Linked DNA regions of Homo sapiens: all the other regions are linked to region 1. Evidence: fine-mapped expression QTL. A gene starts in region 1. Each other region holds a variant in brackets. All regions are shown on one strand. Distances are between the middles of the regions.

Evidence for each region. PIP is the estimated chance that this variant, and not a neighbour inherited with it, causes the effect.
Region 2: its variant is fine-mapped to the expression of GAS7 in whole blood (TOPMed, PIP above 0.99). The same link has a PIP of 0.9 or more in lung.
Region 3: its variant is fine-mapped to the expression of GAS7 in whole blood (INTERVAL, PIP 0.91).
Region 4: its variant is fine-mapped to the expression of GAS7 in whole blood (TOPMed, PIP 0.97).
Region 5: its variant is fine-mapped to the expression of GAS7 in whole blood (TOPMed, PIP above 0.99).

What each region holds. Positions count from the first base shown.
Region 1 is chr17:10,194,874-10,201,350 of GRCh38, forward strand. It overlaps GAS7 (growth arrest specific 7), which reads right to left and starts at 3,733. Exons shown (of 14, transcript NM_201433.2): 1 at 3,335-3,733. The coding sequence starts at 3,517.
Region 2 is chr17:10,112,958-10,119,434 of GRCh38, forward strand. All of the region lies in intron 1 of GAS7 (growth arrest specific 7), which reads right to left. Among named protein-coding and RNA genes, the nearest start is that of GAS7, 82 kb to the right of the region's middle. RefSeq lists a silencer at 2,297-2,356 and enhancers at 4,311-4,840, 4,841-5,370, 5,901-6,428. The variant C/T (reference allele first, on the strand shown) is at 2,389.
Region 3 is chr17:10,105,141-10,111,617 of GRCh38, forward strand. All of the region lies in intron 1 of GAS7 (growth arrest specific 7), which reads right to left. Among named protein-coding and RNA genes, the nearest start is that of GAS7, 90 kb to the right of the region's middle. RefSeq lists an enhancer at 2,090-2,631. The variant G/A (reference allele first, on the strand shown) is at 4,328.
Region 4 is chr17:10,078,715-10,085,191 of GRCh38, forward strand. All of the region lies in intron 1 of GAS7 (growth arrest specific 7), which reads right to left. Among named protein-coding and RNA genes, the nearest start is that of GAS7, 120 kb to the right of the region's middle. The variant T/C (reference allele first, on the strand shown) is at 2,843.
Region 5 is chr17:10,016,438-10,022,914 of GRCh38, forward strand. It overlaps GAS7 (growth arrest specific 7), which reads right to left. Exons shown (of 14, transcript NM_201433.2): 2 at 3,340-3,460. Among named protein-coding and RNA genes, the nearest start is that of RCVRN, 110 kb to the left of the region's middle. The variant T/C (reference allele first, on the strand shown) is at 3,960.

The sequences.
Region 1 (6,477 bases):
AAAAAAAAAAGACTTCTTAATTCCTGTCCCTCGTCATAGCAGAAGAAACCCTCAGGAAAGATTTTTCTAGTTGATTTTATCTAATAACCAGCTGTGGGCCTTGGCTGTAAGGCCTATTCCTTTTCTGGAGGTAGGTGTTTCCCTCTGCCCATCCTTTGAAGAGCTGCACCACCCCGAGTAGGAAGAACCCTTGTGGCCAGAGTCCTTGGGCCTACCAGAGACCTCTACACTTCCCTGCCTGTGCTGAGGTTTTCCTGGAAGCTGCTCTCTGGAAGCCAAGTATGTGCTATACCATTTCCTTGGAGTCTTGACCAAAGAGATTGCCCCAAAAACCAAGACCTCCTCCAAGCTGGCCTCCTCCCAAGGGCTAGCTGGCCACTGGGTCAGATCTGGTGACTCTCTTGGAGTTAGCTCCCAACTCCCCTCCCCCGTGTATGCTTCCTGCAAAGGCTGGGTCTCTCGGTTCCCCTTGCTTCATCTGAACAAGGAAGATCTCCTTGGGAAGTATCCAGTGTGCACACAGTATTCAGTGCCTCCCTCCCCTCCACCAAGATGGGGTTTCCTAGTATCACTCTTTCTATCAGGGTGAAAGTTCCGCTGGAGTAGGGAGCACATTAGAGATGCCATATTCATCTGTGTACCCACAATCCCATCCCTAGGCCAGGAGGCTAGTACAGTCCATCTGTCTGTACTTGTTTCTCCAACAGCTGCCCTGGCCTTCTGAACTCCATGCTCCCAAGCAAGCTGAGTGACAGCACCACATTGGCTGACATCTCATGAGGTTCGCCATCTCCAGTATCTATGGGCCCCCTCTCTAGTCTCATGAGTCCAGATGCTGGCCAGTCTACCCACCAGCCTGGGGACCTCTGCATTCTCTGAGTCTGCCCTTCAGGACTCACCCCATCCCAAGCAACTCTGCTTGCATGTCCTCTATCTCTACCTAGCCTTCAGCCTTGAGGTCCAACTTGCTCATGTAGGAGGTTCCCAGATGCCAAGCACCTGACCCACATGCCCCCCTGTTGAAACTGCATCTGCTTTGGCCCTGAGAAGAGTCCCACCCAGTACTTAGGATACAGGACTCGGGCCCACTGTGGGAAGACCCCCAGCTGGTTCTGAGTAAAGTCACACTTTGGGGTTAGCAGGGAAGATCCTCCAAGTTGCTCCTGGATGCAGCTGTCCTCGTTTTAGCCCTAGAGGTTCAGCCTCCCCTTCGCGGTGCTGTCACCAACATGCTGACCTCAGGGGCTGCGCATGCCCCTTTTCCCCATGGATCCAGACCCTTCGCTCACACGCTGTTTGGCATAGTTGAGCCCGGGCTATCATGTTTAAAAAAGGCACAGGCGCAGGGGGTGATACTCAGTCATCTGAGCTGCTAACAAAACACGCAAGCATTACTAGTTGGGGAGCTGACTTCGCCTCTCTCATATTCAGCTTGCTTGTCTATAAAATGGGGGAAGTACCTCACCCTTCACAGAGCTGTCAGGGAACTGGTGATAACGTGCACACACTGTGCCAAGCAGGTGCTCAGAAGTATTGCTCACGCAGATGGATGCTTCTGTTGCAAGTTACTAGTCAGGAATGGTCTGAGAGGCCCTGAGACACCAGAGATCTCTTACCTTTGTATATGCCAGAGGATGGGACAGACACACCCAAAACTGTCCCAGTTGTTAATTCCGCTTGTCCCCTGGCCCTGGTCCATCGTCCCTTTCCCGGAAGAAAAAGCAGCACTCCACTCTTGCTAACTAACACCTACCCAGCCTCACCCCTACACAAAACACAGCTGGCTCAGTCCAGCCAGGGATGCTCCTCACCGGACAGACATCCATCAGCCAAATTTCCACATCAGAATTTCCTGGAAAAGGGTGACCACCCGAAGAACTCCCAAAATACGTATCTATCCCAGGGCTTCAAGCTAGAAACAAGGAGGCCCCTTGCTTCTCATGTAAGAAGCAATACGTTCGCTTTCTTTTACATCCGAATCTCGGGAAAGGAACTGGAAAAGCCAGGGCAGGGCACACCTGAGCCTCTCCTACAAGTAGGGTATCTCCGGATTCTCCAGATACAGAACCAAGAGGGTTCCTGCAACATACTCTGCTGACAGCCCATGAAAGCTCATTCCAGCAGCCCCTAAACTTTGCTCAAATGCTACTGATGCCTTTAGGAGAGATTTTGTTGTTCTCTGGACCTGAAAGCAATCTAATGTACTTTTATAAGGCCAGGCTCTTGCTGACAATGTTGCCACAGGATACATCCTCAGGCGGACTCACCCTGTAACCATTTCACTTCTTTCTTTCTTCCCCCCGCCCCCGATGAATTGCACTGAGCATTCTCAGTCAAAATTTGCTACTTTCTCTGTGAAGTAGGTCAAGAGTTAAATAATAAATAAATTCAGCCTCCATGATTTCTTCCGGCAGTGTTTTACCAGAATGTTTAGGAATACTGACACCATTGAAGGTAACTGTTAATTTAGTCTTTACAAGAATCCTGGGGGCAGGCGGGCTTCTAGTAAAGGGGATGTCCTGGAAGGTCACCCCCCCACACACAAAGGACTTTAGAAACTTCGGGTCTCACTCAGGCTGTGACTGCGAGCTCAGTGATTAGAGGACAGCCTGTCACATAGACAATAAACAGCCAGCCGCCTTGCCTCAGCAGGTCCTGTGCAGCCCTGGGGCCAGGCCAGAACCCCAGGAACAAGCCACTTTCGGGTTCTGAGCCTTAGCCTCGGGGAGCTGGACCAGGGGAGCAGGCAGTGGCGGGGGGTGCTACGGCACCCCAGGATCAAGCCTGCTGAGGGGGCTCGGGCTGGTGGCCAGCAGGCTCGGCTGACCAGCAAGTGGGTGGTCCCGAGGCGGCCAGGCAGCCTGACCCAAGGCAGCACGACCGTCCACGGGTCATCAGGCTCTAGACTCCGGGGTGGAGACGCGGGGCTGCGGGACCGAGTCGGTGCCACTTTCTCGCACCCCTGATCCTCCGTGCCTCTTCCCAAGACCGCCAGACCCTTCACCGGCCCCTGCCACTGCCGGGAACGCTCCCGCCTGCTCCTTAACTCACACAGGCAACAAGTTCTCGCTTCCTCAGAGCAGCCACGGTGTGCTCCGGAGGCCCGGCGCAAGGTGGAAGCTCCCCGCGAGTCCGCGTTGCCCACGCCCCGAGGGGCGCCCGCTGCCGTCGCTGCCCCCCAGGAGCGTGGAGCTACAGGTAGCGCCGGCAAGGGCTGCCCCCCGGGGCGCCCCTCCGACCGGGACGCTGCGGCATCCCCGGAACGGGCAACAGGTACGCGAGCGCACCGAGGACCGCAGCCCCGGCTCCTACAGCCCCGGCCCTCGCCCCTTACCTCCAGCAACTGCACGTAGCTCGCCGGGAACCAGCCACGGAGCCCGTCCTCCTTCTCGCCTTCCCACCAGCCGCCGTCCGGGACCTGCAGCAGCGTGATCAGCTCGCCCGCGGCGAAGCGCAGCCCCTGGCCGTGCCGCTCCCCGGAGAAGGGGTACAGGGTCCGGCAGCGAGCGCCGGACATGGCCTTGGCGCCCGGGTTCACAGCGCAGCCTGCATTCCCGCCGAGCCCCACGGGCTGGGCAGCGGCTCCGCGGGGTCCCAGGCGCCCGGCGCTCCGGGCTCCCGCGCTCTGGGCGCGCGCCGTCTCTGGGGTGCGCGGGGGTCCTCAGGCAGGCGGGGGACGCGCGCTCCGCGCCGGGAAGCAGAGACTCGTTGGCTTCGCAGAGCGAGCGGCGACGCCCCCGGGCCGGGCAGCTCGCGGATCCTAGCTCTGGGCTGGGGGGCGGGGCTCAGGGGGAGGAGACCCAGGCGCCGCGGGCTCCGGAGACAACTTCCCGGGAACGCGGAACGCGGGCTGCCGCCGCGAGGGCTGGCCGGGGCCGGGGCCGGGACCGGGGCCGGGGCCGCCCTGGCGCGCGGAAATGCGCAGCTCCCCCGGGAGGTGGGACCCGGAGCATCCCCCGCGGCAGGACTCCGCGGCGGGCGGCCGTGGAGAGGAGCTGGCGGCCGGGTGGCCGGGCGGGGGTTAGCTCACTGGCGAGGGGGCGGGCCGGGGCGGGGCCAGGGCGGCCACGCCCGCGGAGGGCTGCGCGCTCCCTCGCAGAGGGGCCTGTCACTGGGGAGAGGGGCTCCCACTCGCGCCCCCACCGCCGGGGACCGCGGGAATGGAAACGCCCCTCTGTTCTGTGCCTGCTTTGTAGGCCTGGCGGCCCGTGGCGTGCGGGCGGCTTCTTCGAGGTGTCTGCGAGGGATCGTTTGTGGTTGTCATTGTAGTGGTTGAACCTGGGGTTGAACTTGTCTCACCGGAAACTGAACAATGGGTGAAAGACAGGTTTGAAGCCTGGCGCCTGAGCCCAGCAGCCTGGTGGCAGCGTGGCACGCTGGAGGGACGGAATGGAGAGAAGACGGGGTCGGAGTTGATAGAATTGGAAACAGTCGATGGGGATAAATGGAGGAAAGGCGAACGGTGAGAGGAACAGCACCAATGCTTTTACTTGCAGAGGGAAGGCCGGCCCAGGGTACCAGCCCTCCCGAAATCGAGATGGGTTGGCTAAAGAGTCTACACTCATGTAGTCAGTCAACAAACATTACCAGGAGGCTGCCATGTTCCATGCGATGTGCCAGGTACTACAAACATCATTTGGGCCAGTCCCTGCTCTCCAGGGACCAGTGAACCTGAGTGCTGCAGAATGTTGACCTTGAACTGACCGTACAGAAGTAAAAGAAAGCTTGGTTTCTTTGCTAGTCTACTCCATAAAAAATTTTAAAGAAATAAAATAAAGTACATTTTTTAGCCTGTAAATAGCTGGACTCGGCCAGGCGCGGTGGCTCACGCCTGTAATCCCAGCACTTTGGGAGGCTGAGGCGAATGGCTCACTTGAGGTCAGGAGTTCAAGACCAGCCTGGCCAACAAGGTGAAACCCCATCTCCACTAAAAATACAAAAATTAGCCGGGCGTGGTGGCGGGTGCCTGTAATCCCAGCTACTCAGGAGGCTGAGGCAGGAGAATGGCTTGAACCCGGGAGGTGGAAGTTGCAGTGGGCGGAGATCATACCACTGCATTCCAGCCTGGGTAACAAGGGTGAAACTCCGTCTCAAAAAAAAAAAAAGCTGGACCCTTTAATACGCCTGTATACCTCTGTCTACTCCTTCCCCCCTCCCCCAGTCACCTTCTGTGGCTCCCTATTGCCTTTTAAATTTGGTACAAACTTCTCTGCCTGTACATTTCAGGCCCTCCACAACGCCTCCTCTAGCTTCACCTCTTACTATGACTGCCTAGATATCCATTACAAAACCAGTCAGGCCGGGCTCCAAGAGCCTGAAGATCTTGCGCACCTGTCTATGCTTTGAATCAGACCCTGGCACAGAGCCTTTCACCTAGTTCAATGGTTCTCAATCCTGGCTGCACATTACAGTCATTATGCAACTTTTTAAAAATACTCATGCCCAGGTTTTAAGAGTCACTACTGAGCCCTAGTCTGCAGCTAAGCCATCTCACCTGAGCAGCCTCCATCTGTTCTCTGGCCATGGGCAAAGTGACACAAGCAGATTATTTGTAATAGTCCATCAATTGCAAAGTCTTGAACATTCGCTTGGCCGGAAATATAAAGAAACAAACTCTTGACCACAGTCACCACTAAGAGTCCCTTAAAGCGGAGCTGCATAACTTCATATCAAAAACAGTCATTAAAAATAGCTGGCCCAATGAAGTTTTAAAAGAGATACAATTCCTTGTATCAGGAAAATATGTGACTTCCAGCAGGCTGTTCTGAGGCTTCATTCCTGATGATGTGGCCTGAATCAAGGTAGGACAACTGATTTCCAGCCATCCTGCAACCCTAATTCTCTGCATGCCCGTGAGGAACTGTGATCCAGTTTGGACTTGAGAAATCGCAGCCTACACAGCATGCCATACACTTGAGTTCTACCTGACCCACCTCAAACATTCCTGCAGCAACCAAAAATGATAATAGCTGTTAATTTCTCCACTTAATTCATTTCATTCCTGTAATCCTACGAGCTGATGAGGTGACTGTTGTCCCAGTTTTCAGGTAAAGAAACTGGGCTCAAAGAGTGTGACTTGCTCACCATCATACAGCTGGTCAACAGCAGAATCAGCTTTGAACTCAATTCTAGCTTATTGTACACTGGTGTTGCTTTCTGTCGTCCCCCCTGCCAGTCAGAAAGCAGGTATCCTAGTGACTCACCCACAAATAGCATCTTAAGAGAAAGTTCTCTAGGCTGGGCACAGCCTGTGAGAGCTTATGCCTGTAATCCCCACACTTTGGGAGGCCAAGGCGGGCGGATCACGAGGCCAGCAGATTGAGACCAGTCTGGCCAACATGGTGAAACCCCATCTTTACTAAAAATACAAAAATTAGCTAGGTGTGGTGCCGCGTGCCTGTAATCCCAGCTACTCAGGAGGCTGAGGCAGGAGAATCGCTTGAACCTGGAAGGTGGAGGTTGCAGTGAGCCGAGATC
Region 2 (6,477 bases), 82 kb before region 1:
CAACCGACTGGCCTGCAGAGAGGCTAGACCAAGTCCACCCAACGATCTGCAAGACAGAGGGTCCTCTGAGGGTCCACTCCCTATGGCCCAGGGAAGCAGAGAGGGACCCCATCCACTCACTGCCTGCATGGGAGGCTGCAATAGAGTGGGGGAGCCATGGGAGAGAAATTCAACAGAAAGTAAAGACAAACTTTTCCAAGCAGAAATTAAAAAAAAATCTGAAAGTGCACGATGCTGGCAAGGCTATGGGAAAGCAGGCACTCCTACTCGCTGCTAGCAGAAGTGTAAGCTAGAACAGTCTTGTTAGAGGCAATCTGGCCCTTTCTGTCAAAACTACAAACACATATATTCTTTGTTCCAACCTTTCAACCTCAGAAACTTGCCCTTCAGAGACCCTCACCCACGTGCAGAATGATGGATATACGAGGCTATCCACAGCAGCAACAGGTAAAGGTAACAGAGAAAGATTAGAAGCAACCTTTATGCCCATTGGTGAAATGAGTGGGGCAGGCATTAAACAGGAGGAGGAAGCTCTTCCTATTGACTAAACTCCAAGATATGTTATATGATTTAACAAAAAGCATCAGTAGCACCAGCAAGGTGCAGAAGTATAGAGGGGATACCTGTGTTCAGAAAACCACAGAGATCGCATTTTTCCGCCCCCTACAACTTGTGCCTCTCACTTCCCGACACACGGTTTCCTGGGTTAAGGAAAATAAAATGAAACATATTTGGAAATTCCTGGACTACTTCTGGAAGTACCCACAAGAAACTGATCACTTGTTTGCCACTCGGGAAGGGAACTGATAGGTTGAGGACAGGGATGGGAAGGAGACCAACTTTTCACTCTACGTTTTTTGTACCTTTCAGATATCAGACCTGAGCATATATTACCTATTTGATAAGTATAAAATTAACAGATATACTTTTGGGTATACATACTGACCAAACATACTTCTGTCTCTTTTGTTTCTCAAGATAGGGTCTTGCTATCTTGCCCAGGCTGGAGTGCAGTGGTGTGATCACAGCTCACTGCAGCCTCAACCTCCCGGGCTCAAGTGATCTTCCTGCCTCAGCCTCCCGAGTAGCTGGGGCTACAGGCATGCACCACCACGCCTGGCTAATCTTTTTTTTTCTTTCATTATTTTTTGTAGAGATGGGGGTCTCCCTATGTTGCGCAGGCTGATCTCAAACTCCTGGGCTCAAGAAATCCTCCTGCCTCAGCCTCTTAAAGTGCTGAGATTACAGGCATGAGCCACCATGCACTTTTCCGTCAATGCTACAGTCTCACTGGGAAGGAAGCCAGTGCCTGCCAGGTGAGTGGGCCCAGGTTACCAGAGCACACAGCCCTGTGCTCCCAAGATGCAACAGGCCCCTCGTTGTGCCCTGCCCTGCAATCTGGTTCTTCAGAAGAGGAGTTCCCAAATACCTGGTCCTCTGCAAATCTGAGCTGTAAACAAGCCTTGGAAAGGTCCTCCCCTTACCTAAATCCCAGCTTCAGGGTCCCGTTTCTGACTGGGGTGCCACCACCAAAGGCAGGGTATACACAGCCACCGAGTGATCCTCTGCCTGCTTCTCACTCCAGGGAAGAAAATCAAAGCAGGTCCCATGGCTGCCGTCTGATAATCACTATGGACACCACACACCAGCCAGCATCAGGGCTGTGTCCAATTAGCCACCCCCATAACAACACCATAGCAACAAAGGTAATATTATTGTTCTAAAGAGAAGAGAAAAACCACACACACACACACACACACACACACACACACACACTGTGTTGTGTGACAGCTTTGAAAGCCACAGAGATCGCATTTTTCCACACCCTAGAACTTGTGCCTCTCACTTCCCGACACACAGTTTCCTCAATGAGAAGTCACAGGCTTGGGGCAATCTCCTCTTCACGCCATTCCAAGATGCGTGTCCTTCACAGGAAACTGGCATGAGAATGATTCTCTGGCAAGCCAGGAGTCAGGGCTGCCTCCTCGCTCTGCCTCTGTGGCTGGCAGGGCTGGGCCAGCTGCAGACCAACAGGCTGGGGGTCATGCTCCAAGCTGTCCTCTGTCTGTCTGTCTGTCTGGCTGGCTGGCTGGCTGCCTCTCTGTGCCAGACCCAAGCTGGCACTGGGGTTTTGGTGGTTGCATCAATGAGCCACACGCTAATCTCCAGACCTAAATGTGGAAAGCATTAACCCAAATGAAAAGACATAAATTAGGACGGGGGCTTATGGGATGGAGGAAAACAGCTCTTCTCTGAGCGAGAGCCTGGGCTGTTGCACAAGAGCTGAGTGAGTCACCAGCCAGCAGAGGGAAGGACCAGGGACGGAAGGAGGGAGGGGAGCCCCCCGTGGGACTGGCGGGTGCACAGGCGGGGGGAACGCTGCAAAAA[C/T]ACAGCTGTAGGTTCATAACTAAGCACACTTCATCAGCAGTCTGAAGGAGGGTGGGGGGCAAAGTGTCACCTCCTCCCCAACTCAGGAAGTGTTGCAACACGTGTCCTCCCCAGAGAAGACAGCAGAAAGAAGTGTTCCTAACTGTTCACCCTTTACAGGCTGCAGCTGTGCCCCGGGGAAGCACACCTCAGCACAGAGAAGGCCTCTCTCATCCCTCCTTGCCCCTTCTTGGCAGTGTCCATACACTTGGGGGTCCCCTAGCATGAGGTGTCCATTGTGGGCACACAACTCTTGCCCATACTTATTACCATTTCTTGTCTTTTCTTCCTTTCCTTTTTCCAAACTCCCCATCCTCCATACTACTGTTGTTAACAACAAGACAAATCCTTTGGTCTCCCCCGCCCCTAGTCCCTGGGGAGAACCTTATACCTTCCCTTAAAACCGTGCCCCACTCACCAACCTCCCCAGCCATGACAGATTCCAAAGCTCCAATATCCAGGCAAATTCTTAGTACCTTCTACGAGTGAGGCACGCTGTCCCTGGGGGTGGCAGTGGAGAGAAGGAGCTCTCCCAAACAGATCATCCAACCAGGACTTCTGAGACTTAGAAGCCCTAGAAATTTGCTCAGCACCTTGGTGGGACCCCTCACCTCTCCAGATCATCATCAAAATGAGGTTGGGTTGGCCGGCCATGGTGGCTCACGACTGTAATCCCAGCACTTTGGGAAGACAAGGGAAGTGAATCATTTGAAGTCAGGAGTTCAAGACCAGCCTGGCCAACATGGCCAAACCCCATCTCTACTAAAAGTACAAAAATTAGCCGAGTGTGGTGGCGTGTGCCTGTGGTCCCAGCTACTCAGGAGGCTGAGGCAGGAGAAGAATTGCTTGAACCCAGGAGGCGGAGGTTGCAGTGAGCTGAGATTGTACCACTGCACTCCAGCCTAGGGGACAGAGTGAGACTCTTGCCTCAAAAAAAAAAAAATGTTGGGTTTAGAGATCAGCTGGGTCCCTTAGACTCTGACAGTGCTCATCTGTAAGAAATGCATGGAACAAAATGAATACTCTCCAGAGTACCTGGCTGCTGCAGGGCTTACCCCGGGGAATGCAAGCTGAAGAAGAGTGCCCTGGGCTGAGCGGGTCTCTGCAACTGGCCGGGCTGCTCACAGCCACTGGGTGCTCAGGAAAGGTGACCAGCAGATAGCACCAGCCGCATCCTGCCAGGGAAGTCACTTACAGGAGAGCTCTTGCGGGTAGGGAGTGGGTCTGAAGTGGACTTAGAGGGCAGCTGGCAGAGACAATGGGAAGAGAAGGTATTCCAGACCAAGGAATCATTCATTCATATTCATTCATTTATTTATTCGACACAGGTTTCTTGAACACCTCTTATACACCAGACGCAGGTTTCGACACTGGGATACATCAGTTAACAAGACAAAGATCCATGCCTCAGGGAGCTTACATTCTAGCAGGGGAGATACACAACCCACAACAAGCCAGACAGACAGGTCAATGATCCAGTTTTGCTGGAAGGTGATAAATGATGAGGGGGGGAAAAGAAAAAACAGAGCAAAGGGGTGGACCTGCCAGAGTGAGTGAGAGACTGAAAGGAGATAAAGAGGTCTATTCATATCCTGAGGCTGCTGTAACAAATTCCCATACACTAACGGGCTTCAAACAATGAAAATTTATTATCTTACAGTTCTGGAGGTCAAAAGTCTGAAACAGGTTTCACAGGGCTAAAGTCAAGATGTCTGCAGGGCTGGCTGGTTCCTCCTGGAGGCTCTAGGAGAGAATCCATTTCTTTGCCTTTCTCAGCTTCTGGAGCCCACCCACTTTCCCTGGCTTTCGGCCCCTTCCTCTCGTCACTCAGCCTCTTGCTTCCAACATCACATCTCCTAACACTGATTCTGGCCCTCCTGCCTCCCTCTCATAAGGACCCTTGGCTTACACTGGGCCCACGTGGATAATCCAGGATTATCTCCCCATCTCCGGTTCTCAACTTAATCACAACTGCAAAATCCCATCTGCCACAGAAGGTAACATATTCACAGGCTCCAGAGATTAGAAGGTAGACATCTTCAGGGGACCATTACTCAGCCCCCACAGGGAGTTGGGCTGCAAAGGCCCTGATGAGGAAGCATGCCTGGAACATTTAAAGAAACACCACGGAAGGCGGAGGACAGAGGCAGGAGTGACACAGGAGTGAGACCAACGGGGAGGAGCAGGTGCTGAGGTCAGGACAGCAATGGGGACCCAATTATGTAGCACCTCATCAGCCACTGTAGGGCTTCCGCGTCTTCACTCTGCCGACATGGGGCACCACTGGACTGTGGTAAGCAGAAGCACGATGTGTTCAGACCCTTCCTGTGAAAACAACAGACTAGGGACCAGCAGAGCAGCCAGGAGGCGCCTGCAACAGCCCGGCAGCATTGTGGTGGCAGCTGTGGCTCAGTCCAAGGCTACAGTGGTAGGGTGGTGAGAAGTGATCCTGTGTTTAAAGATCTGTTTTGCAAGAAGGGCCAACCTGCATTCTCAACATGCTGAATGTGGAATGTGAGAAAAAAAGGGGAGTCAAGGTTTTTGCCTCCAGCGGCTGGAAGGACAAACTAGCCATTTACTGAGCTGTGAGAAGCCACTGTAGCCCAGACCTGGGCTAGGCAACTGCGTCCTGGACAGGACAAGTGGAGATGTCAAGGACACAGCTGGACCTACTTGGGTCTGCACTTTTCCCCGAGGGTAACAGGCAGCACCAGGACCCTGTTGCTCTCCAGGGCGTGGAGACAGCCAAGACCATCCCGGATTACATTTCTAAGTCAGTCACTCGTTGCAAGACAAGATGATAGAGATGGAGTAAACAGGGATATCGCCTGAGCCCTCGGTTTCTCAGCCAGGTATTTTTCCGCTTCTCACAGCGCATAAGGTGGGAAGGAAGTCATGGGAGCACAGCTGGATTCTGGAATGCAGCCCAACCACAGGCTCAAAATCCTCATCTGTGAACAGCTCCACTCACTACCTGGTCAGCCTCTCCGGCCTGCCCTGGGGGCCCTCACTGCCCTGCCAGTCAATTCCAAAAAGCCCTCGTGGGCTGGGCGCAGTGGCTCACGCCTGTAATCCCAACACTTTGGGAGGCCAAGGCTGGTGGATCCCTTGAGGTCCGGAGTTTGAGGCCAGCCTGGCCAACACGGTAAAACCCCGTCTCTACTAAAAATACAAAAATTAGCCAGGTGTGATGGAGGTAGTCCCAGCTACCCTGGGGGCTGAGGCAGGAGAATCATTTGAACCCAGGAGGCGGAGGTTACAGTGAGCTGAGATTGCGCCATTGCACTCCAGCCTGGGGGACAGAGTGAGACTCTGTCTCCAAAAAAAAAAAAAAAAAAAAAAGCCCTTGTGTATCTCTGGGCTGTCTTAACTTATCAGGGGGGTGGTCCTACCCCCGGGGCCCAGTTAACCATGAGGACCAAGCAGGCCCAGCGCAGGTGGCCAGCCTGTGCAGCACCTCCCAGAGGAGGCAAGTGTTCCCCTCCCACTGGACACCAGCACAACGTACACATGCCACATGGTGACATGCACTGTAAGAGGATTCTTACATCTGTCCCCAGGGACAGATGGCACTGCTGAGTGCCTTCCGGGCACTTTCAGCCATTCATTCATTTGACAAATACTTATGGAGCATATACCATGCACCAGGCGCTGTTTCTAAGTATCTGGGGGCACATCAATGAAAAAAGCAGAAGGGAAATAAACCCTTGCTTTCCTGGAGTGACGGCTCCAGCATGAGGTGGGAATGGGTTGCGGGGAGCAGACACTAAACACAATAAAAAAGTGAATTCTAAAGAATGTCAGAAGGTGATCGGGGGAATAGAACATGGTAAAGGGAATCAGGAGTTCAGGGTAGACTGGAGTGTGGGTGGCAATTTTAGAGAGTTCAAGATGTTACCCTTGCTAAAGATCTTTCTAGCTCTTCTGCTCACTGTATTGATTTATTCCTTCATTAAGTAGTTACTGAGTGCTCACCGTGGGCCTGGCCCAGGCCCTCAGTGCTCTCATGAAGCTGACATTTTATTTAAGGAGACAGAGGTTAAGACAACT
Region 3 (6,477 bases), 90 kb before region 1:
AATTGAAACTCAAATAGAATGCAAACATGCCATGCGTATTCCTACCCGACGCCGTTGGTAAGGCGTCTCCCTCTGCTTGGAGCACCTGCCCTGCTTTTAGGGGGAAGCCACACCTTCTCTTGCCTTCCAGGTGTGGTGTGGCTCAGGTGGTGGCTCCTCCACAAACACCGGCCCCTCCTCTGATCTTCTCCAGCACCTGCCTGCAGCCCAGCTTTGACTCTTATTCAAACTCAAATAAAATTCAGTTCCTTGGTCTCACTAGCCATTTTGCAAGTGCTCAGCGGTCCCATGTGACTAGTGGCTACCATGTTAGATGGTACAGGCCTAGAGCATCCCTGTCCCTGCAGAAATTTCTATTGGACTGTGCTGTTCTAGCATTCCCAGGATGAGGCAGGTCTGATCTTGCATGACACTTTTGCACTTGCTGTCACCTCTGCCTGGAATGCTGTTCCCCTTCCCCTCCCTGTGGCCAGCTGCTTCTTGTCATCCAGACAACAGTTTAAGCGTCACCGCTCCAGAGAGGCCTTCCCTAAGCTCCCAATCCAAAGAAGCCACCCACTTCCTCCCAATCGCATGAGCCCGTGTAACTGCAGAGCACGTATCACTAGCTCATGCCTTTCTTGTTTGCGTCTGTCAGCTTATTCCCCAACTCTACCCCACCTCTCCACCCCAAAGTATACTCGTGAGATCAGGGACCTGGGTAGTCTTACTCACCACTGCATTCCAGCTCCTCCTCCTGCATCTGCCCGATGACTCTGCTCAGTAAGTGTTAGTGGACTGCCAGACCTTGCCATGTTCGTATTTCCTCTCGAGTCTCTCACAACCATCACCTTCTCATCATTATCCCTGCCACCACCCAGGCGGGGCCTTTATCCTCTCCTCCTGGGCAGTACTATAAACAGAATCCTACCTCTGCCCTCCAGTCAACCCTGCAAACATTAGCACGTTACTCCTACTAACATTCCTCTTGTCATATCAACTCCCGGTTCCTCCATCTTCTGGTCCCAAATAGCCTCCACATCCCCAAAAGTGCCATGCGTATTCCTACCTCGGTGCTGCTGGTAAGGCCTCTCCCTCTGCTTGGAGCACCTGCCCTGCTTCTCAGGGAAGGCCACACCTTCTCTTACCTTCCAGGTGTGGCTCGGGTGGCGGCTCCTCCGCAGACACCGGCCCCTCCTCTGATCTTCTCCAGCACCTGTCTGCAGCCCAGCTTTGGCTCTTACTCAAGAAGTCTCACATCCCATGTGCAGGCACACAGATAATCCCCAAGACCATGTCTAAAATTCAACAGTCTCAAACTTTGCTGAGGATCAGAATCACCGGGAGAGCTAATGAAGAACACACAGGTCCAGGCTCACGGAAGCAGGATAGAGTCTGAATCTCTGTACTTTTTCCACCTTCCTTAGGAGATTTGAGATTTGCATCTTTAGAGCATTAGACCTTCAACATGAATAGCTCAACCTCTCTTCATCCTCGCTCCCACCCACACACCCTTCCCAGCCTCTAGTTAAAGATCACTTAACCAATTCCAGCAACTCAGAACTCCTGGGGAGTGACCGACTTGGCGAATAACGTCCTCTCACACAAACCTGCTCTTCTTCAATTATTAAAAGATACCCGCTGTGGTAGGCTTGAAAGTGCCCCCCCCCCCAAATATATTAATATCTTAATCACCAGAACCTGTGAATGTTACCTTATATGGCAAAAGGGACTTTGTAGGGCATGACTGACTTAAGGATTTTGAGGTGGGGGAGTTATTCTGGATTATCTGGGTAGGTTCTAAATGCAATCACAGGGTCTAAGAGGAAGACAAGGTCAAAGAAGAAAGAGGCTGATGCCACAGTCCCACTGGACTGTGGTAAGGTGGTTCCTTACACCAAGGTGGAAACAGGCGCCAAGGAAGGAGTTCAAGAGGATGAAAACAGGAAGGAACAGATTCTCCTTGGAGCTTCCAGAAGGACCAGCCCTGCCGACACCTTAATTTTTAGCCTTGTAAAACTCATTTCAGACTTTGGATCCTTAGAACTATGAGTAAATAAATGCATTTTAAGTCACTGCATTTGTGGCATTCGTTACAGCAGCAATGGGAAACTAACACACTTCCTCTTACATAACACTACAAGGTGAAGTTCTACTTTGTCTGTCTTGCTGGGCCTCCATTAACCTTTATAGGAACGGCCCCAGGTTCAAGAGGCCAAAGACGAGACACAGAGCCAGCCAATGAGACACAGGGTTTTATCAGCTGGAAACTTACATACAGAGTGGTCCAGTGGTGGCAGGCTGGGAAGGAGAAGTAGCTTATATACAGTCCAGTGGTGGCGGGCTGGGCAGGAGAACTGCCTTACACACAGTCCAGTGGTGGCGGGCTGGGCAGGAGAACTACCTTACACATAGTCCAGTGGCAGGCTGAGCAGGGGAACCACCTTACACACAGTCCAGTGGTGGTGAGCTGGTTAGGGAAACCGCCTTACACACAGTCCAGTGGGGGGCTGGGCAGGAGAACCGCCTTACACAGTCCAGTGGTGGTGGGCTGGGCAGGAGAACTACCTTACACACAGTCCAGTGGTGGCAGGCTGAGCAGGGGAACCACCTTACACACAGTCCACTGGTGGTGAGCTGGTTAGGGAAACCGCCTTACACACAGTCCAGTGAGGGGCTGGGCAGGAGAACCGCCTTACACACAGTCCAGTAGGGGACTGGGTAGGAGAACCACCTTACACACAGTCCAGTAGGGGACTGGGCAGGGGAACTGCCTTACACAGTCCAGTGGTGGTGGGCTGGTTAGGGAAACCGCCTTACACACAGTCCAGTGGGAGCTGGGCAGGAGAACCACCTTACACACAGTCCCAGTGGGGGACTGGGCAAGAGAATCACTTTACCACAGTCCAGTGGAGGGCTTGGCAGGGGAACCACCTTACCATAGTCCAGAGGGGGTCTGGGCAAGAGAATCACTGTACCACAGTCCAGTGGCGGGCTGGGCTGGAGAACCACATGGCCCAGCGTGGCCAGCTAGGCAGGAGAACTGCAAGCACTTGCCTGAAGCATGCAGTTTATAGAGCATTTTTGCTTTGCATCCTCTCCCTAACAACCTCCACCTGGCAACCTTCATTTAACCCAAAAGAAAGGGCCTTGGTCCTCCATATGGCCTGTGTTCCACTGGACGGGCCAAGGGCTCAGATGTTTCTCATAGGTAAGGAATGAATCTCTGAGTTGGCCACTGCCTGATTCTTTAGCATGGAAATCCACACACACATTCTGGTGCATCTACCACACAGGGTCGTTCTCAGGGTATGCTTAACTTATTGCTGTCAAGTGTGTCTACCATGCACTGTGATTTTCTATTTAATGCATGCCCCAGTGAGCATTTTCTTTGAGCATCATATAGTCCTGAAAAAGTTTCAGATTTTGGAGGATCTGTCTTTGTATTTAGCTCAGATATTTAAAAATTGCACTGCAGAGTAACCAGATAGCATGACGTTCATATAAAAACAGGCACGTAGACCAATGGAACAGAATAGAGAATCCAGAAATAAATCCATGTATTTACAGCCAACTGAGTTTCAACAAAAGCACCAAGAATACACATTGAGGAAAGGACAGTCTCTTCAATCAGGGGTGTTGAGGAAACTGGATATCCATACGTAGAGGAATAAAACTGGACCCCTATCTCTCACCATATACAAAAATCAACTCAAGATGGATTAAAGACTTAAACTAAGGCTCGAAACTATAAAACTACTAGAAAGAACACTTCAGGACATTGGTCTAGGCAAAGATTTTACAGTTAAGACCTCAAAAGCACAGACAACAAAACCAAAAATAGACAAATGGGCCCATATTAAACTAAAAAGGTTTTACAAAGCAAAGGAAACAGTCAACAAAGTGGAAAGACAATCTATTGAATGGGAGAGAATATTTGAAAACTATTTATCTGATGAGGGACTAATAGCCAGAATATACAAGGAACTCAACAGCAAAAAAAATTTAAAAAAATAAAAATAAATAAAAATAAAATAACCATTAAAAAGTAGGCAAAGGGCATGAATAGACATTCTCAACAGAAGACATACAAATTGCTAACAGGCATATAAAAAAATACCCAACATCACTAATCACCAGGGAAATTCAAATTAAAACCACAACGAGCTATCATCTTACGCCAGAGTTAGAACGGGTATGCCTGGCTTATTTAACTTAAGGTAACATAATAACCTCCAGTTCCATTCATGTTGCTGCTAATGACAGCCGTTAGAACAGCTATCATTAAAAAGATAAAAAATATCATTAAAAAGATAAAAAATAACAGATACTGCCAAGGATGAGGAAA[G/A]ATGGGATCTCTTGTACACTACTGGTGGGAATGCAAATTGGTACAGCCACTGGGGAAACCAGTACAGAGACTTCTCAGAAAACTAAAAATAGAACAACCATACCATCCAGCAATCCCACTGCTGGGTATTTATCCAAACAAAAAGAAATCAGGATATCAAAAGACATCAGGCCAGGAGCAGTGGCTCACGCCTGTAATTCCAACACTTTGGGAGGCCAAGGCAGGTGGATCACCTGAGATCAGGAGTTCAAGACCAGCCTGGCCAACATAGCAAAACTCCGTCTCTACTTAAAAATACAAAAACAGGGCCAGGCGCGGTGGTACACGCCTGTAATCCCAGCACTTTGGGAGGCAGAGGCGGGTGGATCATGAGGTCAGGAGTTTGAGACCAGCCTGGCCAACGTGGTAAAACCCCCTCTGTACTAAAAATACAAAAATCAGCTGGGCGTGGTGGTGGGCGCCTGTAATCCCAGCTATTCGGGAGGATGAGGCAGGAGAATCACTTGAACCCGGGAGGTGGAGGTTGCAGTGAGCCGAGATTGTGCCATTGCACTTCAGCCTGGGCGACACAGCAAGGCTCCGTCTCAAAAAAAAAAAAAAAAAAAAGATATCAAAGAGATACCTGTACTCACACGTTTACTGCAGCATGATTCACAATAGCAAAATTATGGAATCAACCTAAGTGTCCATCAATGGACAAGTGGATAAAAAAATGCGGTATATATACACCGTGGAATTCTATTCAGCATGAAAAAGAAAGAAATCATGTCATTAGCAGCAACATGAACGGAACTGGAGGTTATTATGTTAAGTTAAATAAGCCAGGCATAGAAAGACAAAGATCAGTGTTCTCACTGATATGTAGGAGCTAAAAAAGTTGCTCTCGTGGAGATGAGAGTAGATAGTTAACTAGAGGCTAGGAAGGGTGTGTGGGAAAGAGGGGGGATGAAGAGAGTTTGGTTAAGGGGTACAAACATACAGTTAGACAGAAGATATAAGTTCTTTTCTTTTTTTTTAAGACGGAGTCTCGCTGTGACACCCAGGCTGAAGTGCAATGGCGCAATCTTGGCTCACGGCAACCTCCGTCTCCCGGGTTCAACCAATTCTCCTGTCTAAGCCTCAGCCTCCCAAGTAGTTGGGACTACAGGTGCATGTCACCACGTCTGGCTGATTTTTGTATTTTTAGTAGAGACGGTGTTTCACCATATTGGTCAGGCTGGTCTCGAACTCCTGACCTCAAGTGATCTGCCCGCCTCAGCCTCCCAAAGTGCTGGGATTACAGGCATGAGCCACTGCGCCCAGCCAGAAGATACAAGTTCTAAAGTTGGATAGCAGAGCAGAGGGATTATAGTTAGCAACAATATATCACACATTTTGAAACAGCTAGAAGAATGTTTGTTCCCAACACACAGCAATGACTGACGCTAAGGTTATGGATACCCCAAATACCCTGACTTATCAATTATTATACATTCTATACATGCAACCAAATATCACATCTACCCCATAAATATGTAAAACATTACGCGTCGATTAAAAAGTAAAATAACACAAGATGCTCTATTTAGACAGGGCTAGTTTGCTTTGGTGTCCACAACTTGTAGGTCAGTAACTGCTGTGTACATCTATGGATATCAAAAGTCCTTAAGGGGGCCGGGTGTCTTGGCTGGCACCTGTAATCCTAGCAGTTTGGGAGGCTGAGATGGGAGGATCCTTTGAGGTCAGGAGTTCGAGACCAGCCTGGTCAACATGGTGAAACCCCGTCTCTACTAAAAATACAGAAATGGCCAGGCGCAATGGCTCACGCCTGTAATCCCACAACTTTGGGAGGCCGAGGTGGGCGGATGATGGGTAAGGAGATTGAGACAATGTTGGATAACACAGTGAAACCCCGTCTCTATTAAAAATACAAAATAATAGCCAGGCGTGGTGTCGTGCACCTGTAGTCTCAGCTACTTGGGAGGCTGAGGCAGGAGAATGGCATGAACCCGGGAGGCGGACGTTGCAGTGAGCCAAGACTGTGCCACTGCACTCCAGCCTGGGTGACAGAGTGAGACTCTGTCTCAAAAAAACAAACAAACAAACAAACAAAAAACCAGAAATATACTTGGGAGGCTGAGGCAGGAGAATCGCTTGAACCCAGGAGGCAG
Region 4 (6,477 bases), 120 kb before region 1:
AATTGGTAGGTAGGGGGATATACAACAGTATAAACATATCATTTAGAAAAAGGGCCAGGTGCAGCAGCTCATGCCTATAATCCCAGTGCTTCGGGAGGCCAAGGCGGGAGGACTGCTTGAGGCCAGGAGTTCAAGACCAGCCTGGGCCACATAGCAAAACCTCTATCTCTACAAAAAAAAATTTTTTTAATTAGCCAGGTGTGATGGTGCATTCCTGTAGTCCCAGCTACTTGGGAAGCTGAGGTGGGAAGATCGCTTGAGCAGAGAAAGAAGAGAAAGAAAGGAAAGTAATCAGATGATGGTGAAGAAAGATCAAGATGACAACTGTTCAGACTTGAAGAGCGACAGACCAAAGCAGAGGATGCAGTGAGCTATGATCACACCACTGGACTCCTGGCTGGGTGACACAGCAAACCCTTCTCTCTAAAATAACAAAAACCCCAAATGGAGATAAAGCCCCATTGTTACAAGTGGTGGACTCTGAGAAGCATTTGGGGTGGAGTATGGTAGGAGAATGCTCTTTTAAAACTCTATTACTTTGATAAAAATAAACATAAACACTGTAAACCGAAAATAAAATTCTAAGTCCTTCCAACTATCTGAATGGACATCCTCCTTGGCCAGGATACTCTAAAGTTTAACCTGAAAGACTGGTTCAGATCATGAAGGGAAATGGGGATCAGACATGCTTCATTACAACCCTCCAGCATTAACTTCAACACAGACCTTATGTCTGATAAGAAATACTTACAACCTATTCTCTCTGAAGCCTGCTACCTGGAGGCTTCATCTAAATGATGAAACTTTGGTCTCTTATTGCAACATTCCTTTCTATTGATAAGTCTTTCAATCAACTGCCAATTAGAAAAATTTTAGATCTACCTATAACCTGGAAACCCCAGCTTCAAGCTGTCCCACCTTTCTGGACCAAACCAATGTATATCTTAAATGTATTTGACTGATCATATCTCCCTAAAATGTATAAAAACTAAGCGGCGCCCTGACCACCTTGGCCACATGTTCTCAGGACCTCCTGAGGACTGTGACACGGTCATGGTCACTCATATTTAGCTCAGAATAAAACTCTTCAAATATTCGACAGAGTTTCACTCTTTTCATTGACAACATCAAATTTAAAGAAAAAAAATACACCACGCACAATGGCAACAAAACTATAAGTGAGCTATGAGTAAATATAACTAAAGAGTAAAAGACTTATATGGAGACAATGTAATGTACTGACTTTGGAGGTGTTTGAACCAGAGTGACTCCATCTTGTATAGAGGCTGGGTAAAAGATAAGTCTGAGACCTACTGGGCTGCACTCCTAGTAGATTTGGCATTCTAAGTCACAGGATGAGATAGGAGGTGGCCACAAGATACAGGTCATAAAGACCTTGTTGGTAGAACAGGCTGTGCCAAAGAAGCCGGCCAAAACCCACCAAAACCAAGATGGCAACAAAACTGACCTCTGGTCATCCTCGCTGCTCATTATACGCTAATTATAATGTATTAGCATGCTAAGAGACATTCCCACCAGCACCATGACAGTTGACAGATGCCAGGAAGTTACCCTATATGGTCTATAAAGGGGAGGAGCCCTCAGTTCCAGGAACTGCCCCCTGCCCCTGCCACCTTTCCTGGAAAATTCATGAATAATCCACCCCTTATTTGGCATATAATCAAGAAATAACCATAAAAATAGGCAACCAGCAGCCCTCAGAGCTGCTCTACCTATGAAGTAGCCATTCTTTCATTCCTTTACTTTCTTAATAAACTTGCTTTAGCTTTACTCCATGAACTCTCCCCAAATTCTTTCTTGCATAAGATCCAAGAACGCTGTCTTGGGGTCTGGTTCAGGACCCCTTTCCAGTAACACTGAGATACAATAAAGAAGATCTAGATCAATGGGAATATACAACTTGTTTCTAGATAGGAAGCCCAATATTACCAAGGAGATCTTTCTTCTCAAATTAATCTCAAAACGTAGTGCCATTTTAATGCAATAGTTGTTCATAGAACTCAAGGAGGTAATCCTAGAATTCACAGGAAATAGTCAAGGGCCAAGAACATCCAAGACAATTTTGAAGAAGAATGAGGACTTATTCCATCAGATAGTAAAACTTCTTGCAAAGTTACAATTAAAATAGTGAACAGATAGACAAATAGTCCAATGAAACCAGAAGAAAGACCCCAGCAACAGAACACACATTTATAAAAACATACAGCAAAGGTGGTCATCAAATCAGCGAGGTGAGAATAGAGGGATTTTTTAAAATAAGTAATAACAAGATGACAGGCTCCTCAGAAAAAGAGTACAATTGGGCTCTTGCCTTATAACAAACAATAAAAGGAAATTACAAATGGATCAAAGATCTCAACATCAAACAAAAATCTTTAAAACTTTCAGAAAAGTTAAGACCATATATGACCTCACCATAAGAGTTTTTTTTTTCTTGAGACGGAGTCTCGCTCTTGTTGCCTAGGCTGGAGTGCGATGGCGCGATCTCAGCTCACTGAAACCTTCCCCTCCCAGGTTCAAGCGATTCTCCTGCCTCAGCCTCCTGAGTAGCTGGGATTACAGGCATGTGCCACCACACCCAGCTAATTTTTGTATTTTTTTGTAGAGACGGGGTTTCACCATGTTGGTCAGGCTGGTCTCGAACTCCTGACCTTGTGATCCACCCGCCTCGGCCTCCCAAAGTGCTGGGATTACAGGTGTGAGCCACTGTGCCCAGCCAAGAGTTCTTAAATGAGGCATAAAAAGCAAAATCCCTAAAGTAATCGATTAATAAATTTGACTAGATTGCAACAAAAAAGTTTTGCATGACAAAATACATCAT[T/C]AGAAAATGAAGCGGTAAAGCAATGACTGAAAGACTGCGAAATAGAAAAATGAGCAGAGAATGCACAGGAAACCCACAAGAGAGGAAATTCAAATGGTAAATAAACATTTGAAAACAGACACGACCTGACTAGCAATGAAGGAAATGCAAATGCAAGTTAAATCCAAGGTGTGGTATTTCACACCCTCGGATGGCAAAAATAAGAAGTCTGATGTGTTGGCAAGGCAAATGGAAATTCTGATACTCTGTGGGTGGCAGTCTGCATTTGCAAAACCTCTCAGAAAAACAATTTGACACTATTTAGGAAAGTCCAGATGTACATTCTCAGACCCAGATATTTTCCTTCTAGGTATATGGACCCAAGAAATACCCAGGCCGGTACACGAGGGGACAGGCATAAGGATAAGCATTACACCATTGCTTAGAATGACCTAAAGTGTCCACCAATGGAGATAAAGGTGGCCCATGCACATGCTAGAACAGTACGCAGCAGTTAAGATGAACTAGCTCTACATGCACCAACACGAAAAAAACTCAAAAACACATTGTGTGAAAAAAGTAAATTACCAAGGTATAAATATCGTATGGCACATCTCATGTAAGTTTCAAAACAAGACATTGCTAAACAGTATTTTGGATATACACACGTTAATAAAGATTTTAAACATGCTCATGGGAAACACATACCAACCCCAGAACAGTGGTTGCCTCCAGGAAGAGAAGGAAAGAAGGGAAAGGAATTGGAAGAACACACAGGATTTTTAATGTCAAATAATGTGTTATTTCTGACTGACATGTGGCCAATGTTAATACTTGTCAAATCCAGAGATGGTAATAAGCACATGAAAAATGTTCAGCATCATCAACCTTCAGGAAAATACAAGATAAAAGCACCATGGGAAACTACATCATACTCCCTAGAATGGCTAAAAGAATTTTTGTTAATGCTGGCAAGGAGGTAGAACAACAGAAGCTCATACGCTGCTGTGATGAGGAAATTGAAGCAGTGACTTCGGAAAATAGTTTTGCCATTTCTTATAAAGTTAAATGCATGCTTACCATATGATCCAGCAATTTCACTCCTACGTACTTATGCCAGAAAAGTGAAAATGTGTCCGAAAAACCTATACACAAATGTTCACAGCAGATTTATTCATAATAGCTAAATCATGGAAGCAACCTAAATGTCCATCAATTGACAAAAGGATAAGCAAATTGCAGTAAATTCAACTAATGGAATTCTCATTAGCAATAAAAAGGGGTGAACCATTGGTACAACAATGAGGATGAATGTCAGACATTATCCTGTGCAAAAGAAGCCACATTCAAGAGTACATACTGCATGACACATTTCTGTGAAACTCTAGAACAAACAAAACTAACCTAGAGGATAGAAATCAGATTCAGAAGTGACCTGGAGAGATGAGTGGGTACAGAGGAGAGAAACTGACTGCAAAGGGGCAAAGGAGAGCTTTCTGGGAAGATGTCTTACACACTGACTAATTCAAGTAGTGGTTGCAAGGGTGTATACATTTGTCAACTCATTGGCCTGTACGCATGTAATAAATTTCATGAGAAATTATAGCTCAGTAAAGTTGATTTTAAAAATACGAATGGCAGATACATTTGTTAACATCTCTGTAATTTTCTGTAGACTTAAATATTTTATTAAAAATTAAACAGACTTTAGGCCAGGTGTGATGGCTCATGCCTGTAATCCCAGCACTTGGGAGGCTGAGATGGGTGGATCACTTGAGGTCAGGAGATCAAGACCAGCGTGGCCAACATGGTAAAACCCTGTCTCTACTAAAAATACAAAAATTAGTTGGGTGTGGTGGTGCACGCCTGTAATCCCAGTGACTCGGTGATGCAGGATTTTTCTCGGTCCCTTTGCCAGTCAGGGACTTCTGGCTGGCGATGCCAGAGGCCTTGCCCAGGGCATGCTATCTGCCGCAGGAGGTGCCCTGCCCAGTTGGCCTTCCCAGGCCAAGTCTGGCTTGTGCACTGATTCCCAAGTTCTTGTCCCACATCCAAGAAGAATGAGGATGCACTGAACATTGAAGTGTGAGGAGGACAGAGAAGAATTTTATTGAATGATGAAACAGCTTTAAATACAGAGGGGACACAGGGGTGGTCCCCCTACCTGAAGGCAGGAAAGTCCCCCATGTGGCTGGGTCCAGGGCCTTTTATGGACTCAGAATGGGGAGTGCATGCTGATTGGTTTGTGAGTATGCAAAAAAGGTTAAAGCAAAGACACCACGCAGAAGTGGGCCTGGCAGTACAGAAAACCAATTAGGAAAGGGTAGGTATACATAAAATAGGTGAAGGGTAGGGATCAATCAGAGGAAAGCACACCAAACAGGAAGACAAGTTCTCAGTCTGGTCCAAGGATTTAAATGGTAGCTTGGCTTTCAGGATTTAAGCTGTCTTCGGCCTGGAGGTGAGGTTTCACAGGGACCTGCCCCTGCCTACCTAGGCATTGGCTGCCTCCTGCTGCTCTCACAGGGAGGCTGCGGCATGAGGATTGCTTAAACCTGGGTGGTGGAATTTGCAGTGAGGCAAGATCATGCCACTGCACTCCAGCCTGGGCAATAGAGCGAGACTCCATCTCAAAAAAATAAAAATAAATATAAACAGACTTTAAAAATATGGGTTATCAATGGCCTATATTGGTGGGGGCAGGAATTTTTAGGGGGAGAATAAAAAACTAAGGTGGTTTACAATGTTAATTCATTTCTTCCCAGTGGTAGAGTTGTCTATTTAATAATCATAGTGGTCCTATTAGAAGTCAAAGGGTCCGTTGAGATCAGCTGGTCCTGGCGTCTCTTTTTCAGAAAAGAGGCCCCAAGTGAGATTTGTCCAAGATCACTACAGCAGATACCTGTTATTTCAGCTGCCCAGTATCCCTTCCCTTTATCTTTTTTTTTGAGACAAAGTCTCGCTCTTGTCCCCCAGGCTGGAGTGCGATGGTGCAATCTCAGCTCACTGCAACCTCTGCTTCCCAGGTTCAAGTGATTCTCCTGCCTCAGCCTCCCAAGTAGCTGAGATTACAGGCACCTGCCACCACACCTGGCTAATATTTGTATTTTTAGTAGAGATGGGGTTTCACCATGTTGGCCAGGCTGGTCTTGAACTCCTGACCTCAGGTGATCCACGTGCCTCGGCCTCCCAAAATGCTGGGATTACAGGCGTGAGCCCCCGTGCCCGGCCCCTTTCCCTATATCTTAATAGCAGCCCGCTCTTTTTTAAGGGGATTCTCTCTCCCCTGCTGGGCACTTTCTCTGTAGGGCTATTAATCCAGGTGCCAGCTCTCCACAACAAACGCCAAGCGGTCCCCGGTGGCTCCTTCACAGGGTACAGGTGTGTGACCGATGGCCCCCTCAGGACACTTCGTGCTGATACTTTAAATTATGGGTAAGAGGAGCAAGAAAGGGATGCATGGAAGTCATCCATCCTGACCCACAGGCCTGACCATGCTGTTTTTGCTATAAGACTGTTCTTATTATTCCTACTTCCTGGCCTCACACTGCTGAGCACCTTGGTTTCTATCTGTTTTCAGGAGGTTTCCCCGGTCTCTGCCCAGTCTATAACCTTCCAGTGTCTTTGCAATAAATTCCACTTGGCTTACATCAGCC
Region 5 (6,477 bases), 180 kb before region 1:
TCTAGAATGTAAGACCAAGGTAGGTGCTGGAATTATTTTTAGCATAAAAGAGGAGAGAGCCGAGCACGGTGGCTCATGCCTATAATCTCAGCACTTTGGGAAGCAGAAGTAGAAGCCAGAAGTTCGGGATCAGCCTAGGCAACATACTGAAACCCTGTCTCTACCAAAAAAAAAAAAAAAAAAAAAACAAAACAAAAAAAACTGTTTTTAGGCATAGTGTAATCCCAACACTGTGGAAGGTCAAGGCCAGTAGATTACTTGAGGCCAAGAATTCAAGACCAGCCTGGGTAACATGGCAAAACATCTCTACAAAAAATAATAATAATAATAATAATAATAATAATAATAATAATAATAATACAAAAAGCCAGGTGTGGTGGCACATGCCTGTAATCCCAGCTACTCAGGAGGCTGAGGTGGGAGGGTCACTTAAGCCCAGGAAGTTAACGCTGCAGTGAGCCATGATCGTGCCACTGCACTCTAGCCTGGGCAACAGAGTGAGACCCTGTCTCAAATAAATAAAAAATATAAAAAAATAAAGAAATCAGCCGGGCGTGATGACACATGCCTGCAATCCCAGCTACTCAGGGGGCTGAGATGGGAGGAGTGTTTGAGCCCAGGAGGTTGAGGCTGCAGTGAGCCATGATTGTGCCACTGTACTCTAGCCTGGGCAACAGAGTGAGACCCTGTCTAAAAAAATAAATAAATAAATAAATAAATAAATAAATAAATAAATAAATAAAGAGAGGAAGGGCAAATAGGACAAGTCCTTGTGGAGCCAACAGACAGCCTGAAGCAGGGACCAGCAGCTATGGTCCAAGGGACCAACTGGTCAAACCAACTATCATATGGCCCAGTGAACTTGCCAACGAAAATCATCTTCCACTTTTTTTTTTTTTTTTCCTTGAGACAGACGGAGTCTTGCTCTGTCACCAGGCTGGAGTGCAATGGCGTGATCTCGGCTCACTGCAACTTCCACCTCACGCGTTCAAGCGATTCTCCTGCCTCAGCCTCCCGGGTAGCTGGGACTACAGGCGCCCGCCACCACACCCGGATAATTTTGATATTTTTAGTAGAGACGGGGTTTCACCATGTTGGTCAGGCTTGTCTGGAACTCCTGACCTCAAGTGATCCACCTGCCTCGGCCTCCCAAAGTGCTGGGATTACAGGCATGAGCCACCATGCCTGGCCAGAACGATGATATTTTATAACACACACAAGTCATCTGAAATTCCTATTTTCGGATCCATAGATAAAGTCTTATTGGAACACAGCTACACTCATTTGTTTACCTATCATCCAGGGCTGCTTTCATGCTGAAACAGTAAAGCTGAGTGGCTGGGATGGAGACCATGTGACCCTCAAAGCCTACATACTGACTACTTGGCCCTTTACAGAAAAAGTTCACTGACCCCTGGCCTGGAGCCTCTGTGGGATCACAATATCTCAGGACCCATAAGAAAGCTGTCACCAGTGGCATCTGCTAAAGTCTGAGTCCCAGAAAAAAGCTGCCAGACACTGTCTATTGATATAAAATATGACTTAAATTAATAGAGTGCAGGTGAAATTAATAGCATACCCATGCGATGGATTACTACACAGCTGTTTAAAAGAATGGGTTAGACTGAAATGTACAAAGTATAGAAAGATGTCCACATACACTGTCAAAGTAACTTAAAGGACAACATAGACAATATTTTCCAATTTATTTTAAAAGAATAAGTATACATATGTTTAAAAGGTGAGACCGGGGATTATTTTTTATTTGAAATCATTTTGTACTTACTGAATTTTTTACCGTGAAAACAAACTAGTCTCTAACTTAAAAAAAGATAAAGATGCTGAAATTCAGAAAGCCATTTCCCCCCATGCCCCTTTGCAATAGAGTAGCTTATTTGGGACAATAACGGATCCAAATTATTCATATCCCCTAGCAACCTGACCTTCCAATAATTTGGATCCAATGTTGTCCCAAATAATTGATGATCTCATGATCCTACGGTCCAAATTCTGTGTTTGGCAGATGGGTGTTGCATACATAGACACACTCTCCTCTGAAATTTCAAGTCTCCGGTAACAGTGCAAAGCTGTTCATGTGTTTGTTTTGAGGAAGTGTAAGATTAGAACGGTCAGAAATAGTCCTACTTCCCTTTTCCTAGAAACTTCATTACCTCTTGCGCTAGAACACCCCTCTTGAGCCTGTGGAAGGTCAGGTTGCCAGGGGATACGAATAAACCAGCTGCCTTCTTTGTGTCTCTGCTAAACAGTAGCTGGCTCCCCTGTCACTAGGACCCCCTCCTGGTGCAGGCTTATAAACATCAGCTGTAGTAACGATACCCCCAGGTGGGAAGGGGTGGTCATGTAGTCAGGCAGGCACAGAGGAGTGAGAGGCCAAGGCTGAGCCAGCAGTGGACTTGGGTACGATTTTCATCTTTTGCCTTGGAACGCATGTCTGTGATTCCCACTAAATCTAACTTTCCTTGGTTTAAATCCTCTCAGTTCTCTCATGGCAATTTCTCTGGGGAGTCACGGAGGTCAAGACACAGCTCTGTTCAGCTGGTTTACCCTGTCCTGCCCTGCCCAAGACCACAGCCTGCAACAGTGCCCTTTGCTCACCTTGTTACAGAACCTGCCACGTGGTGCATCCCCTTTTATAAACCATCCACAGCAAACTTCTGGGGATCCTGGGGTCATTTGAAGGCCTGGGAGGTCCCTAATTATTGGGGTCATTGAGGTGTGGTCCTATTCAACTCAGATGCACATGGAACCTGTACTATTTGATGGGATAAATAACCCATAAGCACCCCCGGCATTTCCCAAAAAACATCTGGAGAAATGCCAGCCAGTGAGATACTTAAGGAAAAAGATGACGTTGTAGTGAAATTAGGGAAACCTCGCATTTGCAACCCCTGTATTGAAGCTTCAAGATCATTAAAACCTTCAAAATTCCAAGACATCATGCAGTGACTTTGCCTCGTTCATTTTATTCAAGCCAGCTGTTGACCATAGAACCTTTTGAGACACCCTTCAGAAAACCCAGCCCCAGACGAACAGGTTGGGTTTAACACAGATACCCAGGGTGGACGTCAGGGTCCAAGGAAGACTCAAACCATAAAGGGCAGCCTTCCTTCCAAGATACTCCCAGAACTACAGACCCAGACTTGCACCCCTACCACCCAGCACAGTGGGAGGAGTAAGACTTTACTGTAGCCCCTGAGCATAGACTTAAGAAGAAAAAACCCCCAAACAGAGAGGCGAAGAAGGGAGAAAAAACGTGCCCCTCTAGAGAGCCAGAATGCCAGGGGGTTGGTGCAGGATTCTCCCCCGAGCGGGACTCACCATTGGTGGTCGTGTTGACATAGTACCGCCGGCCCTGAGGCGACAGGTAGCTCTGCCAGCCAGGTGGAAGGATGACCGTCTGGCTTTCTTCTCCCGGCGGAGGGGGGACCATTCCAGGCTTCTGTTGGAGAAGAAAGAAAAGGTCACACCCATTTGGCATTTTTGCAAGAGTTTTTAAACCAGGAAGGCAAAGGCTGATGAATTCACCCTACAGTAGCGTGACATTGGGAAGTCTGCGGCCCATAAACCCCTGAGGTCAGAGGCAGCACACACGTGACCTCCGGGGTTGCGTGAGCATGAGCAGTGAGAAGCACCTGAGCATTCAGAGCCCCTGCACAGAGGACAGCTCCTCTGGGAGCAGAGAGGAAAATGCCATTCAGCTAATGGAGCTAGACTTTCTCCACGGCCCCCTAGAAAATCACTCACGGGGTGCTGAGCTTGCAAGGGGGCCCTGTCACTCCACCACCTCCCATTGTGAAATCTGAAGCCTGAAATTCCCAGACCACGAAGCACAGCAGCAGACAAGGCCCCAGGCTTGCTGTGCAAACCTAGCAGAAGTAATTAATGCAAGTCATCCCACAGCCAGATGCAAAACATTCTATAATAATGCTGAGAATCCA[T/C]GAAGAGCTGGATGGAGCTTCTCTCGCCAAGGGTCCAGATCACTCTGGCAAAAAGAACGAGGACTCGGAGACAGAGCAGACGCTGACTTCCCATTGTATGCATTTATGTGCAATTAATTCTTTTAACCATGTATAGAATTACTTTTCGTTAAAAAACAAATCAGAGAAAAATGTATATGACATACAAAGAAACTAGATATCTAGTAGACAGATGCTAAAAAAAAAACAACCATGGCCGGGCGCAGTGGCTCACGTCTGTAATCCCAGCACTTTGGGAGGCCGAGGCGGGCGGATTGCCTAAGCTCAGGAGTTCGCGACCAGCCTGGGCAACACGGTGAAACCCCACCTCTACTAAAAATACAAAAAATTAGCTAGGCGTGGTGGTGTGCGCCTGTAGTCCTAGCTACTCGGGAGGCTGAGGCAAGAGAATTGCTTGAACCTAGGAGGCGGAGGTTGCAGTGAGCAGAGATCGCACCACTGCACTCCAGCCTGGGTGACAGAGTGAGAGTCCATCTCAAAACAAACAAACAAAAATATAAAAACAAACAAACAAAAAACAGCCACGATCCCTGGGTGCTGGGATTACAGGCAATTATTATACTCTCCTTTCTACATATCTGTTCCCCCTAAATTTTCTCCCATAAACACAGAAATAAAAGTTGTTAGCTAAAGAACATTTTAAAATTAGGACAGAGAGTCCAAATTAGCCCGTAAGATTGCTGTGCCTTTTGAAGTAAATTGATTAAAATCAGAATTGTAGCCATACGAAGAGAGTAGCCATGAATTTCTCAGCAAAGCCAGGGGACTGTTCACAAACAGTAAAGGTAATCGGCTCCCAAATGTCCTCAGTATCCCCCAGCTGTGCCCATAGTGGTGGTCCCTGGTGACCCCCGCTTAGGAAAACAAGATAACAGAATGAAAGAGAGCAGCAGAGACACACAGCTCCCAGGCTACTCTCACGCTTTGTGAAGGTTGCAAAACCACGTGCCGTGGCTTCCCGTAGTGCCCTGCATGTCATTGGAGGGAACGAGTAAATCTGAGCTGCTCGGGGACTTTGAGTAAACACAGCCTCCCTTCTGCCCTCTGCGTAGCTGCGGTGTAAGTTTCACAATGCATTTTCACAACTTAATTAAAAGCTTTCCCCTATGCCCTGGACGCTCCATCTCCTACACCTGCTAACCTGCAGTGCCCGTTTGATTCCGTATGGAAGACTGTCTTCTAAGACAGCAGGAGACAGTGAGGTGGACAGCAGCCAGGATCAACACGGTGTGGCATCCCACCAGGGTCGCAGGTTGCTGTCTCACCAGCATGTCCAGTAAGCACAAGCCCACATCTGGGCAGGTTTACCTGGGCCCTCTCACTGCTTTGGACTCTCCAGGATTGGAAGATAGCCAAAATATATGCAAGACAAATAGGATTATAACAACGTGCATGTGTGCGTGTGTGTGCGTGTGCATGCGCGCGTGCATGTTGAGAGAAAGAGAAGTATCCCATGCACAGGAGATGAACATTCTGTCCAATAGGATTAGAAATAAAGTCGGCATGGGTGGGGGGTCAGGGGATTAAAACTGAGGGTTAGGGCCAGGTGCAATGTCTCACGCTTGTAATCCTAGCACTTTGGGAGGCCGAGGTGGAAGAATGGCTTGAGCCCAGGAGTTTGAGACCAGCCTGGGCAACATAGGAAGACTCCGTCTGCAAATAATTTTTAAAATTAGCCGGGTGTGGTGGCATACGCCTGTGGTCCCAGCTACTTAGGAGGCTGAGGTGGAAGGATTGCCTGAGCCTAGGAGGTTGTTGCAGTGAGCTGTGATCGCACCACTGCACTCCAGCCTGGGTGACAGAGTGAGACCCTGTCTCAAAACAAAGAACAAAAAAATACAACTACAGGCATGAGTGTTTGATGAAAGAGATTCTAGAACCAGAGGGGCAAGATGCCAGGTGTCCTCCCCTTGAGTGAAATATTCTAGTTTCTCCTTCAATCAAACATGGGAAAGCCATATTGGTACTTATCCAAATAACTTGGGAGGAAATAGGAAGGATCAAATATTGACATGGTCAGAAAAGGGGTGCAGGAGACAGGAACCCACAGGCACAGCGAAAACAGCCCTCAGGCTCAAACAGCCTTCAGTGCCAATCCTGCCTGGACCGCTTGACAGCCATGTGACCACAGGCTACTGACTCACCAGGCTATTCTCGAATCTGTGAAACGAAGGGTGATAATATGAGCCCAGTTGTGGAAGACGACGGAGAGGGTAACAATACGTAACTCAGCACCTAGGGCAGCGCCTGTCCTGAGGGATGCGCAATGAATGGGGTTTTCCACTGGAAGGGCTTCACACAGTCCGTCTACGGCGATACGGACCTCCACCCTAGCCTCACCATCCCTCTGTCTGAAATGTCAGCATCAACAGTCACTTCTCTGAGGTTTCTGTTTCCAATACTACCCGACTTGAACGGCAAACACCTGCTGGGGAGGTTAACAGCCTGAGAGCTGGCCAGTGCGTTCTGGTGAGAGGGC